Homo sapiens: one gene and its partners. The protein of the gene in region 1 purifies or fractionates together with the protein of each later gene. This does not show direct contact. Each region holds a gene or a part of one and is shown in the gene's direction. Other genes may lie near its edges. The genes, in order: RSRC1, NCBP3 and PAXBP1.

Region 1 (7,111 bases):
GATGTATATGTACCACATTTTCTTTATTCAGTCTATCATTGATGGGCATTTAGTTTGATTTTGTGTCTTTGCTATTGTGAATAATGCTGCAGTGAACATAAACGTGCATGTGTCTTTATAACAGAATGATTTCTATTCCTTTGGATATATACCCAGTAATGGGATTGCTGGGTCAAATGGTATTTCTGGTTCTAGGTCTTTGGGGAATCACCACACTGCTGATTCCTCAAAGTATCACCCGTTCTGGACAATGCCTGTGACATCATCTTCCACAATGGTTGAACTAATTTACATTCTCACCAACAGTTTATTAATAAAAGTGTTCCTGTCTCTCCACAGCCTTGCCAGCATCTGTTGTTTTTTGACTTTTTTTTTTTTTTTGAGACGGGAGTCTCACTCTGTCACCAGGCTGGAGTGCAGTGGTGCGATCTCGGCTTACTGCAACCTCTGACTCCCTGGTTCAAGCAACTCTCCTGCCTCAGCCTCCTGAGTAGCTGGGATTACAGGCACGCTTCACCACGCCCAGCTAATTTTTGTATTTTTAATAGAAACAGGGTTTCACCATGCTGGCCAGGATGGTCTCCATCTCCTGACCTCGTGATCCACCCCCCTCAGCCTCCCAAAGTACTAGGATTACAGGTGTGAGCCACTGTGCCAGGCCATTTCTTGACTTCTTAATAATTGCATTCTGACTGGCATGAGATGATATCTCATTGTAGTTTTGATTTGCATTTCTCTAATGATCAGTGATGTTGAGTTTTTTCTCATATGTTTGTTGGCTGCATAAATGACTTCTTTTGAGAAGTGTCTGTTCATGTTCTTTGCCCATTTTTTAATGGGATTCCTTTTTTTTTCTTGCAAATTTGTTTAACTTCCTTATAGACTCTGGATATTAGACCTTTGTCAGTTGTATAGGTTGCAAAAATTTTCCTCTATAGATTGTCTGTTCGTTCTGATGATAATTTCTTTTGCTGTGCAGAAACTCTTTAGTTTAATTAGATCCCATTTGTAATTTTTGTTTTTGTTGCAATTGCTTTTGACGTTTTTGCCATGAAATCTTTGCCCGTGCCTTTGTCCTGTATGGTATTGCCTAGATTTTCTTCTAAGGTTTTTATAGTTTTGGGTTTTACATTTAAGTCTTTAATCTATCTTGAGTTAATTTTTTGTGTAAGATATAAGGAAGGGGTCCACTTTCAATTTTCTACATATGGCTAGCCAGTTCTCCCAGTACCATTTATTAAATAGGGAGTCCTTTCCTCATTGCTTGTTTTTGTCAGGTTTGTCAAAGAACAGATGGTTGTAGATGTGCGGTCTTATTTCTGAGTTGTCTATTCTGTTCCATTGGTCTATGTGTCTGTCTTTATACTAGTACCATGCTGTTTTGGCTACTGTAGCCTGGTAGTATAGTTTGAAGTCAGGTAGCATGATGCCTCCAGCTTTGTTCTTTTTGCTAAGGATTGTCTTGGCTATATGGGCTCTTTTTTGGTTCCATATGAATTTTGAAATAGTTTTTTTTTCTGATTCTGTGAAGAATGTTAATGGTAGTTTGATGGGAATAGCATTGAATCTTTAGGTCACTTTGGGTGGTATTGCCATTTTCACGATATTGATTCTTCCTATCTGTGAGCATGGAACGTTTTTCCACTTGTTTGTGTCCTCTCTGATTTCCTTGAGCAGTGGTTTGTAGTTCTCCTTGAAGAGGTCCTTCACTTCCCTTGTTAGCTGTATTCCTAGGTATTTTATTCTTTTTATAGCAGTTGTAAATGGGAGTTCATTCATGATTTGGCTCTCTGCTTGTCTGTTGTTAGTGTATAGGAATGCTAGTGATTTTTGCACATTGATTTTGTATCCTGAAACATTACTGAAGTTGCTTGTCAGCTTAATAAGCTTTTGAGCTGAGATGATTAGGTTTTCTAGATATAGGATTATGTCATCTGCAAAGACGATTTGACTTCCTGTCTTCCTATTCGAATACCCTTTGTTTTTTTTCTCTTGCCTGATTGCTGTGGCCAGAGTTTTCAATACTATGTTGAATAGGAGTGGTGAGAGAGGACATCCTTGTCTTGTGCTGGTTTTCAAGAGGAATTCTTCCAGCTTTTTCTCATTCCGTATGATATTGGCTGTGGGTTTGTTGTAAATGGCTCTTGTTATTTTGAGGTATGTTCCAAGGAAGGACTTTTGTTATCTTTCATTAACCTGTGTTAAATGTAATCAACCAGCCTTCTATTATGGATAAATTATGTTGTTTGTAATTAGAACAAATAAAAAATTTATACTCGCCTTCTCCTGTTCTCTCTTTTTGGTCACCCCCAAGACAGATAGATCTGTGTCCCTTCCTTTTTTTCTGCTTGTTTGTGCCTTACTCAGAGATGTAGTATAAAGGACAGAAATAGAGAATGGGAATGACTGTAGGTATCTTAGAGCAGAGGTTCTCAAACATTTTAGTCTTAGGGTCTCTTTACACTCTGAAACATTGTTGAGGACTCCAATAACATTTATTTGGATTATATCTATGAATATTTACCTTATTAATTAAAACGAAATTTTGAAATCTTCATGAATTCATTTAATAACAATAAACCCAAAATATGGTAACATAAATAGTATCTTTGATATGAAAAATAACTGTGTTTTCCAAAACAAACTTAGTGAGAAAAGTGGCCTATTTTCCTTTTTTGCAAATCTCTAATGTCTGGTTTAATAGAAGATGGCTGGATTCTCATATCTGCTTCTTCATTCAATCCACTGAGATAAATTGTTTTGATTGAAGTTTGTGAAGCAAATCTGGCTTTACTCAGATAAGTGTTTTAGTAACCCTTTTCAGGTAATTATGTCTTTCGTATTACACCAAAAATTGATTGTGTTAATTTCTTGAAGTTCTGTTTTAATATGGTTTTTGAAACCATATGGATAACCTTTGGTACTCCATTATGTTAAAATCTATTGGTCTGACTTACACTCTGAGTGGATCTTTACCCACGCATGGTTTTGTGACATTTTGCATTGGCCATTTGGAAAATATTGGCTCACTGAGTTAGGCATATCTTTCTAATGTTAACACCCTTCATTATATATCAAAAATTCATGTTTGTTAATGTCACCGATGATCTCGGAAGTTTTTAAGTATTCAGAAGCTATCATTCTCATGGTGGCAATACAAATTATCTAAAATTCAAATTTTTGCTTGCAAGCTTGAATTTTATCATCAGCAATGAATACTCTTTTCCTTGAAATGGAAGGATCCCTTCATTTTCAAGAAAAGGTTTTCCAGATACTCAAGTCTGCATAATTATAGTGAGTTTTTAAAATAAAATAATGTTTCATAATAAAAGCAGCTAATTCAAGTTGCAATTCAGTTACACAAATGCTTGTTCTTGAAATAACCAGCGTTCTTCAATATATGGCAGAAGTTATGTGTATCTCTCATTTCATAAGAATATTAAAAAGATGTGTATGTACTCGAGTGGAAATTTAGTAAAATTTATGATTTTTACTGCTTTATTGAGGACATTCTTAATTGAAATTGCTTTTTTTTTTAAACTGTGACTGTATGGCAGTGAGGGATACAGTGACTACTAAGTATAATTTGGTGCCTCTGCCTTGATTTGTGCTAAGGTGCCAGCAGTTTTGTCCACTATTACTTTTGCACCATCAGTGCAAAAGTCAGCACAATGAAAAAGGTAAATAATGTTTTAGTGTTACAGTGAATATAGTTTTGACTTCTTGAGTCCCCTGAAAAGTGTTGTAGAGATCCCCAAGGGTCTACAGGCCTCATTTTGAAAATCGCTGGTACTAGAATGTAAGCTTCTATAGGGAAAGGATTTTTTTTTTCTTGTTTATTGATGTATTGCTTATATGCTATCAGTCTGGGATGTCTTTCGTATCTTCAGTATAAGATTACTTATATTTTGAATCTGGGTTGTCTGTTGTGATACTCTTCTTTTCATGGAGCACACTGTCGAGTAACTTCATGAAAAGGGGAGAGTGTGGGGTATAATTTTGAGACCTTACATGTCTGAAAATGTCTTTATTCTAATCTCGTAGCAGAACAGTGATTTGGCTGGATAGAGATTCTAGGTTGAGATTCATTTTCTCAGCATTTTAAAGGCTAGTCTCCGTTGTTTTCTGTGTTGTGAAAACCCATATGCCTTTTATTGTGCTACCCATATTTTTTTATCTTTAGAAATTTCTAGGCTCTTCTGTATATTCCTGGTGTCTAAAGTTTTTATGAGATATACTGGGTATGTCTTTTTAGAAAAATCATTGTCCCAGGGACTTAGGGCAATTCATCTTTCAATTCTGGAACTTTGAAACAAGGACTTATTCTGTCACCCAGACTAGAGTGCAGTAGGGTGATTGCAGCTCACTGCAGCCTGGACCTTCTGGGCTCAGGTGATCCTGCTGCCTCAGCCCCCTCAAGTAGCTGGGACTACAGGTGTGCACCACCATGCTCAGCTGATTTTTTGTAGAGACAGGGGTTTCACCATGTTGCCCAGGCTGGTCTCAAACTCCCTGGGTTCAAGCAATCCACCCACTTCGGCCTGCCAAAGTGCTGATATTACAAATGTGAGCCACCATGCCTGGCCTGGAAATTTAATTTTTGGGTAATTTTTTTTTGTCCCTTTTCTCCTGTTTTTAAAGACAGGATCTCACCCTATCACCCAGGCTGGGGGTGCAGTGGTGGGATTATACCTCACTAGAGCTTTGAACTCCTGGGGTCAAGGTGTCCTCCCATTTCAGCGTTCAGAGTAACTGGGACTACCGGCTTATGCCATTATGCTGAGCTTTTCTATTCTTTTTTTTTTATAGAATGCGTATCTGGTGCATTTTGGACTTCCAGATTGATCCTCTTCTGTTTGTAAAATGTCTGTCTCTTTTTCTTTCTTTCTTTCTTTCTTTCTTTCTTTTTTTGAGTCCTTTAACCTCTTTTCCAACCTTATTGTTTTTGTTGTCTGTTTTTTTGAGGCTGGGTCTCGCTCTGTCTCCCAGGCTGGAATGCAGTGGCACAATGTTGGCTCACTGTAGCCTCGCCCACTTGGGCTCCGGTGATCCTCCTGCCTCAGTCTCCTGAGTAGCTGGTACTACAAGTATGCATCACCACGTCCAGCTAATTTTTGTATTTTTTGTGGAGACCAGTTTTCACCATGTTGGCGGGGCTGGTCTCAAACTCCTGGACTCAAGTGATCTGTTTGCCTTGGCTGCCCAAAGTGCTGGGATTACAGGCGTGAGCCACCGTGCCTGGCCTTAATTTTAAATTTTTTTAGAGACAACATCTTGCTCTGTCACTCAGGCGGGAGTGCAGCGGTGCAGTCATATCTTTTGGACTCAAGGGATCCTCCCACCTCAGCTTCCTGAATAGCTAGTACTAGAGGCATGTGCCACCATGCCTAGCTAAGTACCTGGCCTTCTGTGTGTGTGTGTGTGTGTGTGTGTGTGTGTGTGTGTGTGTGTGTGTGTGCGCGTGCGCGTGGTTTTTTTAAATTGTCCTTTGTTAAAATTTTAAGCTATCTGTCCTATTCTCCAAATGTTCCTCCTAGTCTTGTTTGCTGGATCATCCTGTCATATGCATCTGAGGATATTAGCTGTTATTTTTGTTCTTGAAGTTTTCTTCTGTATGTTCTGGTTTACTATCATTTGCTTTTTTTCTTTCTGTTTTAGTTTCTGTCTTTTATGGTGAAGGCTTTCATCATGTTTGCTTATATTTTGTTGTATATTCAGCAAAAAGTTAACAGAAAAAATGTTTACAGAAAAATGTTATAAATACAGTTGTAACCTGTATTTAAGGTTTGGACTTGTCAACTAGTAGGCTTCATTATAGGGTGATTGGGTGGGGGCCTGCCCTTTTTGGGGGGAACCCTCAAATGCTTATATATCTTTTCTTAGGTGTTGTTCAGTTTTTGCAGATATTCAAGAATCCTCTTGAGGATAGCACACAGAGGGCTATGACTTTTCTATTTGATTATAGACTTTAACTTAACTTAATCTCTTTAACTTTTAGTTTGGCATCTCTGTCTTTTTTTACTGTGTCCTTGGACCTGGTGCTTCTTTGATTCATTTTTCTCCCCAAAATAAACGTTCTCTCCTCTGAGGATTGGGGAAGAGTATCACCTGGCTGGGTAGAATGGAGGGACTCAGGGACACTATTACATAAATTCAATCAATTTTTTTTTTGTTTTTAGCCTCATGGCCTCATTGTGCCTGCTCTGGTATCTGGTGTCTTAAATTCCTGATCCTTTCTGATTTTTGCTATGTGAATTTGCTTTTCTCTTGTTGGAATTCTCTACAGTTGCCTGATAATAAGTTTTCTTAGCTCTAAATTCTCCATGTGTTTTTCACTTGCCAAAAGTTTGTTGACATATCTCATGTTCCTGTTGTTTTCTAGTCTCTATCCTTTCAAATTTATACTTTTTAATTTCTTTAATCTTATTTTGGTATTTTTTAAAACAAGATAGCAAGATAGTAAAAGCTCATCTTAATTTAAATGGTTATTTGTTTGTGAGGAACATTCTTAAATGATTAAAGGTAAAAACAAGAAAGGAATTAAAAGCCAAGAAATGAAATTATTATCATTCAATTGTGTACATATTTCTTAACATGGATATAAGTATATGTGTGTGTGTATAATATACACACATACATATGTGGGTATCTATTTGATATATATAATGGATATATGTATATATTTTATGTATAAATGGATATGGACACATGTGAATTTATATGTATGTACAGATATACCTTATATACATCTGAATTATGTTTGTATTTAAATGTATGTTTGTATTTACATATATATACATGTTGTATATATTTATAATTTCATAGTCTTTTTTTTTTTTTTTTGAGATAGAGTCTCGCTCTGTCACCCAGGCTGGAGTGCAATGGCACTATCTCGGCTCACTGCAACCTCCGCCTCCCAGGTTCAAGCGATTCTCCTGTCTCAGACTACTGAGTAGCTGAGACTACAGGCGCATGCCACCACGCCCAGCTACTTTTTGTGTTTTTAGTAGAGATGGGGTTTCACCATGTTGATCAGGCTGGTCTCGAACTCCTGACCTCAGGATCCGCCCGCCTCGGCCTCCCAAAGTGCTGGGATTACAGGCGTGAGCCA
Region 2 (7,111 bases), on another chromosome or scaffold:
TTGGAACCTTGTATCTTGTATTGTTTATTTTTGTTTTCTCCATTAAGTCATCTGGCTCCAAACAGCAGTTTTAACCTCATTCGTCTCTGTATTTTGCTTTATCCCCTCTACACTGCATTGCTGTAGTGGGCACTCAGAGTGTGAATGTTGGTAGTGGATTTTTACTTTTTGTTGGCAAATTGCGCTGATCTGATTCCAGCTATGGAAAACATTAAAAAAAAAATTCAACATTGTCTTTACACTCACAGGAAATCCTAGGTAACTATTGTCATTAATTTTTAGATGACAAAAAGGAACTTGGAGCAGCCAGAAGAAGTCAGTATTACATGAAATATGGGAATCCAAATTATGGAGGCATGAAAGGAATTCTTAGCAATTCATGGTGAGTCCAAAACCTTCAAATGCAATAGTATTTGAGTTTTTCTTAATCCTTCAGTTGGTATTCCGTGGTGAAATGTCTAAACCCTGTGTAAACTGGAAGGAAAACAAGAGGGAAGAATTCAAGATTCTTAGATGTGGTAAATGATGGGGAATGCTGAATTGTAGTTACATTTAAAATATCTGTGTTAGTACCTAACATTGTGTCAACGTGTAGTTGAAATGAATTAGCGAGCCCAGACATGGTGGCTCACGCCTGTAATCCCAGCACTTTGGGAGGCCGAGGCCAGCAGATCACCTGAGGTCAGGAGTTCGAGACCAGCCTGGCCAACATGGTGAAACCCCGTCTCTACTAAAAATACAAAAATTAGCCATGCATGGTGGTGGGCGCCTGTAATCCCACCTACTCGGGAGGCTGAGGCAGGAGAATTGCTTGAACCCAAGAGGCAAAGGTTGCAGTGAGCTGAGATGGTGCCATTGCACTTCAGCCTGGGAGAGAGATTGAGACTCCATCACAAAAAAAAAAGAAAAGAGAAAGAAATAGTGGATTTCAAGGTCCTTCCTATCAGTTTTTGATTGTGTGCTTATTTTGGCATTCTTGCAGGAAGCGAAGATATCATTCCCGTCGTATTCAGCGGGACGTGATCAAGAAGAGAGCCCTGATTGGGGATGACGTTGGCTTGACGTCGTATAAACATCGACATTCTGGTAGTTGCCTGCTCAGCTCTTGGGTAGACACATGTTTGGCTCCTGAAATCATATTTTTATTCTTAATGCAATCTTTTAAGGTTCCAAACTTTATCATCCTCTCTTCCTTGCCCTCACCCTCTGCCAACATATAGGAAAGTAAGTCAAGTCACAATTAATTTTAAGTTGCCCAAAGAGGTCAAATGATTTTATAAAAGCTGTTCTATCAAAAAAGGCAAAATATGACATAGGAAAAATTAAAACAAAACTTTCCTTAGGATCCTAATTTTTCTACTATTAATATCAACAGCTGCATGAAAACAATTTTTTTTTTTTTTTTAAGACGGAGTCTCGCTCTGTCTCTCAGGCTGGAGTGCAATTGCTTGATCTCGGCTCACTGCAACTCTGCCTCCTGGATTCAAGCAATTCTCCTGCCTTAGCCTCCCGAGTAGCTGGGACTACAGGCATGCGCCACCATGCCCAGCTAACTTTTGTATTTTTAGTAGAGATGGGGTTTCACCATGTTGGCCAGGCTGGTCTCGAACTCCTGACCTTGTGTTCCACCCACTTTGGCCTCCCAGAGTGCTGGGATTACAGGTGTGAGCTACCGCGCCTAGCCAAAAACAATTTTTGAAATTATTTTATCAGATGAACTGATTGTATTGTTCTTTTTCTGTATTAAAAATAGGCTGCTGTGTTGAGTGCTTTGTGCTTGTTGGTTTGTGCATGTGAATGCCTCAGAAGAGTGGGATATCATGACTTGGGTTTCTTTCTCCTTTTTTTGGTGCTTATTGTAAAAGAACCATTTTATTTATGTTTTATAAAGAATTGTTCTTGTTTTGAGCCTAATCTATGGAATCTTCTACATGCCTAATAGAACTAGTCAAGTCAGCATACAAAATAACATATACACACATTTATCATTGTAATGGGGACAGAAAGGGATGAAGTCTAGATGTTTTATTTAATGTGTATATACAAAATTGTATATTTGAGATCTACATGTTAATAATACACATAGGATGGGAACAGTGGCTCACACCTATAATCCCAGCACTTTGGGAGGCCAAGGCAGGAGGATCACTTGAAACCAGGAGTTTGAGACCAGCCTGGGCAACATAGTGAGACCTTGTCGTTACAAAAAATTAAAAAATTAGCCAGACCAGGCATGATGGCACATACCTGTGGTCCCAGCTACTTGGGAGGCTGAGATTGCCTGAGCCTGGAAGGTCAAGGCTGCAGTGAGCCAAGATTGTGCCACTGTATTCCAACCTGGGCGACAGAGCAAGACTTTGTCTCAAAATAATAATAATAATACACATACTTTACTGTTACACAGTTACACTTTTCCAATTTGAGTTACTTTAAAATATTTTCATCATATACTTTTTATATCCATATTAAGGAAATTAAAAAGCAAATTGCCCCTATTTCTAGTACCCTGTATGATGACTGAGTTCATCTTACATTTTTCCCATTTGTTTTCATAATAAATAGTATAACTCTTGGGAACATGTACTTTATATTCTACTTCTTTCGTTTATTGTATTTTTCCATTTTCATTATTCATGGTGCTTATGTTCTATAAAGTCACTGTGAACACTGAAGTAGCAAATACTGAATCGTACATAGCCTCTGGCCACATCATTTTTGTCAGTTGATCAATATGTAACCTTGTTTTACATATGTTTCTCTCTTTTTTTTTTTTTTGAGACAGAGTCTTGCTCTGTTGCCCAGGCTGGAGTGCAGTGGCGCGATCTCGGCTCACTGCAACCTCCGCCTCCCGGGTTCACGCCATTCTCCTACCTCAGCCTCCCGAGTAGCTGGGACTACAAGCGCACACCACCATGCCCGGCTAATTTTTGTTGTATTTTTTAGTAGAGACAGGGTATTAGCATGTTAGCCAGGATGGTCTCGATTTCCTGACCTCGTGATCTGCCCACCTCGGCCTCCCAAAGTGCTGGGATTACAGGCGTGAGCCACCGCGCTGGGCCCATATGTTTCTCTTTAAGACACCTTATTTAAGACACATTGTTGATTCGTTAACATTGAGTTCACAGCCAGTAGCCCTATAACTCATGCCTGAATGCCTTACCTGATATGGTATTTTTCCACAAGGCACATCACAGCCCCCTTGCATCTAGGAACACTAGGCAGCACTTCGGCACGACACTCAGGGCCATTTTAAGCAGTGAAATCACTAGCAGCAGGCACAGAAGTGTGAAAAATGTGCCACTCGGTGGACTGAAACAGACGCTTGTTTACAGCATGAGATGAAACAGGAAGGTGGAGTGTTGCTTTGTTTGACCTCCACTGGGAGTGTGTGTGCCTGGTGACTCAGATTTTTTTGCCACTCTGTGCGTGCCAGCAAATGACCATGGAAGCATTGCACGTATTCATTTTGGAGTTACAAATAAATTTGGTAAATTTGCAAATACAAAATCTGTGAATAATAAAGGTCAGTTGTATTTTAAATGACTTTATGGTATTTGGTTAGGCTGCTGCATCATACTTTACCTAGCCATCCTCCTGTTGCAGTATCAGAGTAATGTCCATTTGGCACTATTATAGATAGTGCTCCAATAAAATGTCAGGGATGGGAACCCCACCTTTTAAAAAGGTCACCGATGTAGAGTAGAAAATCATACTTGTTAATTTTAGTGCTTTTCCTAATGTTTTCTGGTTAAATTTCTTCAGGGCTAGTGAATGTTCCCGAGGAACCCATTGAAGAGGAGGAAGAGGAGGAGGAGGAGGAAGAGGAAGAGGAAGAAGAAGACCAGGACATGGATGCAGATGACAGAGTGGTGGTAGAGTACCACGAGGAGCTCCCGGCTCTCAAGCAGCCCCGGGAGCGGAGCGCGTCTAGACGATCCAGTGCCAGCAGCTCAGACTCAGATGAAATGGACTATGATCTAGAACTGAAAATGATTTCCACGCCTTCACCAAAGAAAAGCATGAAAATGACTATGTATGCTGACGAAGTGGAATCTCAGTTGAAAAATATTAGGTAAAAATTTGTTTTATCAAAGCTAGCTTTTAATTTGATTTTAAATACTAGTATAACTTCTTAATTCCTCCTAATTTTATAATATCTTTTATCTATTCTGATTTCAGTCCCTTGTAGGAGTTTAATAAACGCATCCAGTATTTCCTCTATACAAGCAGTGATTCTTGTTATAAAAACAAAAGACAACATAGAAAGTGAAAATCATCTGTATTCCCATTCTTTCTCAACAATAACTACTGTTAGCAATTTGGCGAATAACCTTTCAGCTATTTGTGTGTGTGTGTGTGTGTGTGTGTATGGCACAGGGAAAAGCTGTAGATATATTTGTATAAAAGTATACTTTTTATAAAGATGAGGTTATGCTATTTATAGTTTTGCATTGTGCATTTTTCACTTAATATATTGTAGACATTATTTTTTTCAACTGTATATAGTCTGTTGTTTGAAAGTATCATGATTTATTTAACGAATTCCTTTTTGATGGACTTTAGGTTTCTATTTTCTTACAATTGCACTAACTCAATAAATTCCTCAAAGTCCAGTTATTACACAAAACAATATGTGTTTAAAAAGATGGTAAGTATTGCTTTATTTTTTTCCAGAAGGGTTTTTTGTGTGTTTTTATTTTTTTTTTGAGACGGAGTCTCGCTCTGTCACCCAGGCTGGAGTGCAGTGGCGCGATCTCGGCTCACTGCAAACTCCGCCTCCCAGGTTCACGCCATTCTCCTGCCTCAGCCTCCCGAGTAGCTGGGACTACAGGCGCCTGCCACTACTCCTGGCTAATTTTTTGTAATTTTAGTAGAGACGGGTTTCAGCATGTTGGCCAGGATGGTCTCAATCTCCTGACCTCGTGATCCACCTGCCTCAGCCTCCCAAAGTGCTGGGATTACAGGCATGAGCCACCATGCCCGGGCTCAGAAGGGTTTTAATCCCAGAAGGGTTTTAATCACTCACATTACCACCTGTTACCTACAAGCTCACCAGCCTTAGCTATTACCATTCTTTCTAATGCTAGCTAGTTTCATGAACAAAAAAAAAATAGTTATTTTAATGTGCATGTCTTTGATTACTACTAGGGGTGAGCAGATTCTGTGCAGGCAGAATCCACAGTTCTAAGGGTTAGAGTCTAGGGATGCTCTGTGTAACGTAGTATGTTTGTGGGGAGGGGAAAAGACCATTCAAGCTGATTTGTTTGTATGGCCTTGTTCACCACGTTCTTTTTTTTTTTGAGACGGAGTCTCGCTCTGTCGCCCAGCCTGGAGTGCAGTGGAGCGATAACACGATCTCGGCTCACTGCAAGCTCCGCCTTCTGGGTTCACAGCATTTTCCTGCCTCAGCCTCCCGGGGAGCTGGGAGTACAGGCCACCACGCCCAGCTAATTTTTTGTATTTTTAGTAGAGACTGGGTTTCACCATGTTAGCCAGGATGGTCTCGATCTCCTGACCTCGTGATCCGCCCGCCTCAGCTTCCCAAAGTGCTGGGATTACAGGCATGAGCCTGTTCACATTCTTATTTTTGGTTTTCAGAGAGCTTTCTGGTAGAGAATGCTGCCGGAACGGTGCTGGCACCTAGCATGATAGCATATCTCTTTGAAAGAGAAGTCTGCCCTTTAAAGAGAGAGACTGTAGACTATACTGTGTGTTGACTACAGCCACATCACAGCATGTGTAAGTGGAAGCCCCAATCTCTTTGTAGGCCTCTACTTAACGTTTGTCCCAGAAAAGGGGGACTTGTAGTTGTATGCTGTGTAATAGCACATACACATGTGGAAACCACCTTCGAAAACCTGCTCACCAGAACCAGTCTCTTTAGAGCAGGCAGATCATGGTTTCCATAAGCAAATAATTATAAGTTTATGGATTTGTAAGTGAATGTTGGCCATGTAAGACAGGATTTCTTAAATTGTTTCCTCCAAAGTATGAGATTGTTGTTTGGGTCTTGTCTCACAGTTGAAGTTGGTTAACTGTGCCCCATCCTACCCCCTTTTTAAAGGAACTCCATGAGGGCAGATAGTGTATCTTCAAGCAATATCAAAAACCGAATTGGTAACAAATTACCACCTGAGAAATTTGCAGATGTCCGACATCTATTAGATGAGAAACGTCAGCACTCCCGTCCACGGCCACCAGTCAGCAGTACTAAATCAGGTACTGTTCCTCACTTGGATTCCTGGCTGGATTCTGAGCTCCGGAAAGCAGACTGGGGCAGAGAGAGGTTCCTGAGTAAAACATGCGATGTGTGAACTGATTTAGCTGTCCTGGTTCATCATGTCTAAATTGTGGGCTAGGTGTTGGAAATTGAGGAAATGAAAAATAATCAGACTTCTGAAAAACTAGCTTTAAATGTTTTTATTCCAAATAATTACAGTTGTTCCTTGGTATGTCTGGGGGCTTGCTTCCAGGACCCCCTCCCCGCCCCCTACAGATACCAAAATCCATTGATGCTTAAGTCCCTTATATAAAGTGACATATTATCTGCATATAACCTACACACATCCTCTCATATACTTTAAGTCATCTCTAGATTATTTACAATACCTAATACGGTATAAATTCTTATCCTGTGTTGTGTAAAATTTGTATTATTTTTTGCTGTACTCTTATGTCTTACTTTTTTTCCACATGTATTCGATCAGCAGTTGGTTGAATCTATAGATGTGGAATCCATGGATGAGGAGGGCCAACCATATTTTCCTCTGTATGACACTGGTATACTTTATATACAAGAATAATAGAAATTAAGTTCGGTGGTTGTCTGAACAGTTAAGAGTTTGAACTAGATAATTTCTATGTTCAAACACTGATTCAGCAGGTCTTTAGCCGTACCTGCTATGTGCCAGACCCTGGTCTAGGTGCTAGGAATGTGAGAAGCCTTTGGAGGGGACGCAGAGCCGTCATAGATCTACTCGGGAAGTTGTGAAAGACTTCTTAGAGAAAGTAGCATTAGAGCCAGGCCTTGGAGAGGGTAGGATCTCTGTTGGCAAACCTGATTTTTTTACATGAGAAGTAACCTGATCTTACATCTATTTTAGAAAGACAA
Region 3 (7,140 bases), on another chromosome or scaffold:
CTGAGGCAGGTGGACGACCTGAGGTCGGGAGTTTGCGACTGCCTTGACCAACATGGAGAAACCTTGTCTTTACTAAAAATACAAAATTAGTTGGGCGTGGTGGTGCATGCCTGTAATCCCGGCTACTCAGGAGGCTGAGGCAGGAGAACTTCTTGAACCCTGGATGCAGAGGTTGCGGTGAGCTGAGGTTGCACTACTGCACTCCAGCCTGGGCAACAAGAGCAAAACTCTGTCTCAAAAAAAAAAAAAAAAAAGTCAAGAAGTTTTAAAAAATGTCTGGGCACGTTGGCTCATGCCTGCAATCCCAGAACTTTGGGAGGCCGAGGTGGGCAGATTACTTGAGGTCAGGAGTTCAAGACCAGCCTGGCCAACACAGGAGCTTGTGGGGTGTGCGGATCATCTCTACTAAAAATACAAACATTAACTGGGCATGGTGGTGCACGCTTATAATCCCAGCTACTTGGGAAGCTGAGGTGGGAGGATTGCTTGAACCTGGGAGGCAGAGGTTGCAGTGAGCTGAGATCACGCCACTGCACTCCAGCCTGGGGATAGAGTGAGACTCTGTCTCATTGCTTGAACCTGGGAGGTGGAGGTTGCAGTGAGCTGAGATCGCGCCACTGCACTCCAGACTGGGTGACAGAGTGAGACTCCATCTCAAAAAACAAAAACAAAACAAAACAATAACAACAAAAAAGTTTTAAAAAATAAGAAAGCTTATAAAGTAAAAAAGTTATAGTAAGCTATTTATTATTGAAGAAAGAAATATGTTTAAACATTTAGTGTAGCCTAAGTGTACAGTTGTTTATAAAATCTACAGCAGTGTACAGTAATAACCTAGGCCTTCATATTCACTTACCACTCACTCACTGACTCACCCAGAGCAACCTCCAGTCCTGTAAGCTCCATTCCTGGTAAGTGTCCTATACAGGTGCACCATTTTTAAAGCTTTTATGCTGTATTTTTACTGTATCTTTTCTATGTTTAGATACAGATACCATTGTGTTACAAGTGCTACAGTATTCAGTACAGTAACATGCCGTATAGGTTTGTAGCCTAGAAGCAATAAGCTATGCCATACAGCCTAGGTATGTAGTAGGCTACACCACTAGGTTTGTGTAAGTATGTGATGAAATTGCCTAATGGCATATTTCTCAGAATGTATCCCCGTCAAGTGACAAGTGATTGTATTGTGGCTTACTTTAAAATGAGAGGTACTCTTCCCTCTATCCATATCCAATCACCACTTTTACACTGGGAGAAATTTTTGAAATTTCAGGCCACCATAATAACATATTTGGCTTCTGGACCTTGTCTTTGCTACCTCTACCCTAATTATTTTACTGCAAATCTTTCTCTTGGCTCAGGTGTCTGGAGGCTGATCAGGCACAATTTGAATCTTCTATGATTAGAAAAGGGAGTTCAATTTCACTAGTGAAACACTGTTGGAATCAGAACTTACACCAATGCTGAACAGCCAGAATATAAGAACTGAGAGTAACATAAGTAGAATGGAAGCCAGATGTTATTAACCCTTCCTATTAACTAGAAGAAAATGTTAATGTTATAGAGGATGCTCTTAGCTCCAAAACTGAGTCCTAGTTGTGCACATGTCAAATCTAATTAAAAATATAAAAATTAGGCCGGGTGTGGTGGCTCATGCCTTAATCCCAGCACTTCAGAAGGCCGAGGCAGGCGGATCACAAGGTCAGAAGTTTGAGACCAGCCTGGCCAACGTGGCAAAACCCCGTCTCTACTAAAAATACAAAAATTAGCCAGGTGTGGTGCCAGGTGCCTGTAATCCCAGCTACTCGGGAGGCTGAGGCAAGAGAATCGTTTGAACACAGGAGGCAGAGGTTGCAGTGAGCTGAGATCGTGCCATTGTACTCCAGCCTGGGCGAGAAGAGCAAGACTCCGTCTTAAAAAACAAAACAAAACAAAACAAAAATACAAAAATTAGCCGGGTGTGGTGCCAGATGCCTGTAATCCCAGCTACCCGGGAGGCTGAGACATGACAATAGCTTGAACATGGGAGACAGAAGTTGCAGTGAGCTGAGATCGTGCCACCGCACTCCAGTCTGGGCCATAGAGCAAGACTCCGTCTCAAACAAATAATAAATAAATAAATAAATAAAATAAAAAGAAATGCTTGGAGTGCTCGGGATCTTCCACTTCAACCTGGAATTTAAATCTTACTGAAATTTCTACAGGATGGTGTGGGCAAACAGGCATCCTAATGTTTGCTGATATAAGTGCAAACTGCATAACTTCTATAAAAAGAAATTTAGAATTAGCAAAATCATAAATGCATATATTGAGATCTAGCAATTTCAATTCTATTTCATCCTACAGATGTAACAGTTTTTCAAAGCTTTTCATTACAGCACTGATTAAGACTAGAAATAATCTAAATATCAATGTTTATGGAACTGGTTAAATAAATTACGGTATATCCCAACAATGAATCACTACGCAGGTGGGTTAAAAAAAAAAATAGACGGCCGTGCGCGGTGGCTCACGCCTGTAATCCCAGCACTTTGGGAGACTGAGGCGGGCGGATCACGAAGTCAAGAGATTGAGATCATCCTGGCCAACAGAGTGAAATACAAAAATACAAAATAAATTAGCTGGGCGTGGTGGCACGTGCCTGTAATCCCAGCTACTAGGGAGGCTGAGGCAGAAGAATCACTTGAACCTGGGAGGCGGAGATTGCAGTGAGCGGAGATCGCGCCATTGCACTCTAGCCTGGGCGACAAGAGCGAAATTTAGTCTCAAAACAAACAAACAAAAAACCAAAAAAACACAACCCTTCATATACAGATATGGGCCGATCTCCAATCTACGGTAGGCTAAAAATGCAGCTTACACACCATCTGTGTAAAAAGGGGAACACATTAAAATATGCATATTTATTTGCTTTTATGTTCATGGAACATCTTTAGAGGATCATAAGAAACTGTTAACATTGCCACTGAGGAAGTGAACAGCCTTCCAGACATGGGTGGATTTTTTTCACTCTACCGAATACCCTTTTAATTTCGAAACATCAAAATGAATTCGCATGCACAGGTGCATGCCCGAAGGAAAAACTTCTAGTTCGGTGATGAGATAGGGAAAGCCGGTGAGTTCAACCTTAGGCGCAATCACCCTGTGAAGGTGTGGCCAGCGAGGGCTTTGTCACGCAAGTCTGAGAACTGTCACAACCTTCCCCACCCCCTGCTCTATTTTCCTTCCACTTGTTTCTGAAACTCACTAAGCTTTGGAAAGTATTTAGTCATAGAATTGCTTGCAAACTTGGCATTCTTTAGAAAACACGGAAACACTTTTGCTTTCCTTGTTCCTGAAAGACTGGGGAACGGGGGACATCAAGCCAGGTAACATTGTATCATAACTGAAATTCAATGTCTTTGAAGTAACATTGTACCATAAATGAAATTCAATGTCTTTGAAGTAACATTGTATCATAAATAAAATTCAATGTCTTTCTAAGAGCTCTGTAGCTATAAAGCTGTAGAAATACAAAGTATTACTCAAGAATAACTAGTAATTACCAATAGTCACACCTCAGGTCAAAGTTTGGAGAGGACTATTCCACCTACTAGATCACACTTTCCTTCCCGAAAGCCGCTTCTCTCTCTGGCCTCTCCCCTCCTCCTCCTCCCTCATCTGTTTGGCGGGAGGCTTCCTCACATTACCGCTCCGCGTAAGTGCGAAGACGCACTGCAGCAGCGCCGTCTGAGGGACAACAGAGCCTACTCTTTCTTCTCATCTCTATGATCCTCTTTGTGACCTGTCAAACAACACCAGAGTTCCATGCTAATAGTACTCCACTCCGACAGAGAGCGATGCAAAGAGCCGACGCTCTCGCGAGAGGTGTGGGGCTCTCTCTCTCTCTCTCGCTCTCTCTCTCTCTCTCTCTCTCGCTCTCTCTCTCTCTCTCTCTCTCTCTCTCTCTCTCTCTCTCTCTCTCTCTCTCTCTCTCTCTCTCTCTCTCTCTCTCTCTCTCTCTCTCACTCTCTCTCTTTCTCCAAGTATTGAGAGCGCGTGGGAGCATAGGCGCATGCGCGCTCGTGGGGTGCGCGGTAGCAACAGAGGACTCGACCCGGCTGGAGCTCCGGAGAGCGCGCGTGCGCCGTCACGAGCTCGGCGCTGCCGGGGCCGCGGTGTGGAAGCGAGTATTCGACCGCCGTGCGGGCCGCGGGGATGTTCCGAAAGGCCCGGCGGGTGAACGTGCGCAAGCGGAACGACTCCGAAGAGGAAGAGCGGGAACGCGATGAGGAGCAGGAGCCGCCGCCGTTGTTGCCGCCGCCGGGCACGGGCGAAGAGGCGGGCCCCGGTGGCGGCGACAGGGCCCCTGGCGGGGAGTCGCTGCTGGGCCCGGGGCCGTCGCCGCCTTCCGCGCTGACCCCGGGCCTCGGGGCTGAGGCCGGGGGCGGCTTCCCCGGCGGCGCGGAGCCCGGCAACGGGCTGAAGCCGCGCAAGAGGCCTCGCGAGAACAAAGAGGTGCCCCGGGCCAGCCTGCTCAGCTTCCAGGACGAGGAGGAAGGTAAAGTGCGCGCTTCGGACGCCCTTAGACGGCCGCATCCCCGACGCAGGCCCCCGTCCCCCGCCCCCGTATTCTCTGGACGCCCAGCCCCGGAGCCCTGGAACGGAGTCCCCTGCCGTCCGACCGGCTGCGAATCTTCCCCAGCCTCCGGCCTTCTGCTCGGGCAAGGGACGCGTTCCCGCGCTGCCCCCAGCCTTTTCTTAACCACCTCCTCTGCCACGGGGCCGGAGCTCAGATCAGGCATTCAGAGTGTTTCAGGGGAAATTCGGTGTTCCCTGTCCTGCCTCTTTTCTGCCTGGCGTGTTTCAGGGCCAACTTGGTGTGGGTCCCCTGGCTGCTCTTGGCATGCTTTCCGAGCCCTCTGCAGGTCACTGCGCCCACACTTCTTGGATGCTCTGTCCAGGCATCCTCGACCATGAAGGCCGAGTTTGTAAAAAGGAATACTAGGAGAGGGAACAGAAGCCTGGAGTTGCAGCTCTGGTTCTGAGTGACCTTGGGCCAGTCCCTTGCAGTCGCTGAGCCTCAGTTTACCCATAAAAGTAATTAGGGGTAGCAGATACCCAGCCTTCTTCGCACTGACTTTGGGAACAGTGAAGCGAGACGGTGTAAAAATAGTAAAAGCAAGGTAGTTTCTCCAATTCCTGTGGGAGGCCAGGCTGCAGTGGTTTTAGATTGCTGATCTTAAATGAGCCTTAAATCTTTTCTTCTGACCATTTGAATGTGCATAACCCAGTTAATTCCATGTTACGAAAAAAGAAATTAAGTTTTGTAAATCTTGCATTTTTATTCGAGAGGTTTCCAGTAAGGTAGGTAGTTTATCTTTGGCATTTCTGTTACTCTTTATTTGGTTTGAGAGGAGTACAGACAGATTTTTGTTTTTGAGATACATGAGCTATTTTTTTTTAAGTATTTAGTACTTTTAAAATTTCAAATCAAAGAAAAGTGATTTGCCCTTACCTTAGCTTTAAAACCACTATGTCAGCTTGTGGTGGATGTAGTTACTCAGAATTGACAGCACCTTTTTATTTTAGATATTTTGTTTCGGATTCGTTAATAACTTGGTGATGTGGTTTTTCAGAAACATTTTGAATGATTTTTTCCCCTCTCAAATAGATGATTTAAGGACGACAATAATAGGAAAATTTTGTGAAGTTACATGTGCTATTCCTTTAAAAAGTCTCAAAAATCTCATTACTTCACAGTAATTTAGGAAGTTGACCTCTGTTTTTGAGTCTGTGACAGACTTGAAATAATTATACAATGATTTTGGCATATGAGTATATATATTTGGGATAATTTGGACAGCACGTAAGATCATGTGAAAGAAGGGAAAATATTTTCAGAAAATAGTTGCTACAGACTTCATTTAATTTCCTTTTTAAGAAAATGAAGAAGTTTTCAAAGTGAAGAAATCAAGTTATAGCAAAAAGATAGTAAAATTGCTCAAGAAGGAATATAAAGAAGATCTTGAAAAATCGAAGATTAAGACAGAACTCAACTCATCAGCTGAAAGTAAGTACCAAACTAATTGAATTCTTTTGAAATGACAAAATGAAAGCTCTTTCTCACAGTGATTTGCTGTATATCTTCTGAACTCATTCAGTGGACCCTGTGGTTGTCAAGGGCCCTTATTGAGTAGCAGTACAGTTCTGTTATTTAATTGTAACACAGATGCTTTGTAAATGTATTTTATAAGAAGACAGAATTGTTGCCACTGGAACATTTCTGCTGCAATGACTAGATTCTCTCACAGTTTTCCTACTTGTGTGCAGACTGCTGTTGAACAGAGAAAGAAGGTTTCTCATTTTAGCCTAAGACACAGGTTTATTTCTGTTTGAAGGAGTGTTGTGCAAATTCTTGTATTTTGTAGAGACAGATTTGCGATTTCTTTGGTGGTATTTCCACAGTGGATTTTATTCTTAGAGAACTTTTAGGAATGCCCTAAATTTAATATTAGTATTACTCCCATTCAGCAGCCTTATCTGATACTAGATGAAGACTCCTTAGAATAATGAGGCAGGTATATTGTACAGACATCTCTTACGTCTCTCAAAACCTCAGTTTAAAAAATTTTAAGCGGTTATTTTGTCTTTAGGAAAGTGGATCCAGTATAATATTCTATGGTCTGAGTTATTCTCCTGCAAATGCTATTTTATTTTATGGAATTAATGAGAAAATCATGATTTTCCAGATTCTCACTTACAGGCTTATTGTGAAAAAGTATGGCTTTGTATCTCAAATTTACAATCTAGATGTGAAGACAATATCTCATAAATGTGTAAGAGGACTCAGTGTTTGGCAAAATGTTCAATCAGTGTTCCAAAGGGTGGCTACTCTTTCAGAGGAGAGAGGACTGCTTTATGGAAAAAGTGGGACTCGAAGATGGATCTTTGATAGTTAAAATTCCGAAAGGGAAGGTATTGGGGGTATGATCAAGGATTAAAATGACTAAAGCTGTTTTGGAAAAGAACAAGTACACCTGACAGGTCAGAGTAGATGATTTGTGAAGGAAGTAGTTAGAAGTTTCATGTGAAAGATACGTTGACAGATTGTGAAGGATGTTCAGTATCCAGTAAGGGTTTACATTTGCTACAGTG

Evidence for each region.
Region 2: the proteins of RSRC1 (region 1) and NCBP3 purify together in Homo sapiens (affinity purification with mass spectrometry; 3 studies listed by BioGRID and IntAct, with this or other methods). This does not show direct contact.
Region 3: the proteins of RSRC1 (region 1) and PAXBP1 purify together in Homo sapiens (affinity purification with mass spectrometry; 3 studies listed by BioGRID and IntAct, with this or other methods). This does not show direct contact.

Annotation. Positions count from the first base shown.
Region 1 is NC_000003.12:158,113,006-158,120,116, forward strand, and holds part of RSRC1 (serine/Arginine-related protein 53), read left to right. Parts: intron 1-7,111. UniProt on the Homo sapiens protein: Has a role in alternative splicing and transcription regulation. Involved in both constitutive and alternative pre-mRNA splicing. May have a role in the recognition of the 3' splice site during the second step of splicing.
Region 2 is NC_000017.11:3,815,224-3,822,334, reverse strand, and holds part of NCBP3 (nuclear cap-binding protein subunit 3), read left to right. Parts: intron 1-282; coding exon 283-382; intron 383-982; coding exon 983-1,086; intron 1,087-3,762; coding exon 3,763-4,072; intron 4,073-6,064; coding exon 6,065-6,219; intron 6,220-7,111. UniProt on the Homo sapiens protein: Associates with NCBP1/CBP80 to form an alternative cap-binding complex (CBC) which plays a key role in mRNA export. NCBP3 serves as adapter protein linking the capped RNAs (m7GpppG-capped RNA) to NCBP1/CBP80.
Region 3 is NC_000021.9:32,768,729-32,775,868, reverse strand, and holds the start of PAXBP1 (PAX3- and PAX7-binding protein 1), read left to right. Parts: upstream 1-4,113; 5' UTR 4,114-4,200; coding exon 4,201-4,543; intron 4,544-5,926; coding exon 5,927-6,055; intron 6,056-7,140. UniProt on the Homo sapiens protein: Adapter protein linking the transcription factors PAX3 and PAX7 to the histone methylation machinery and involved in myogenesis.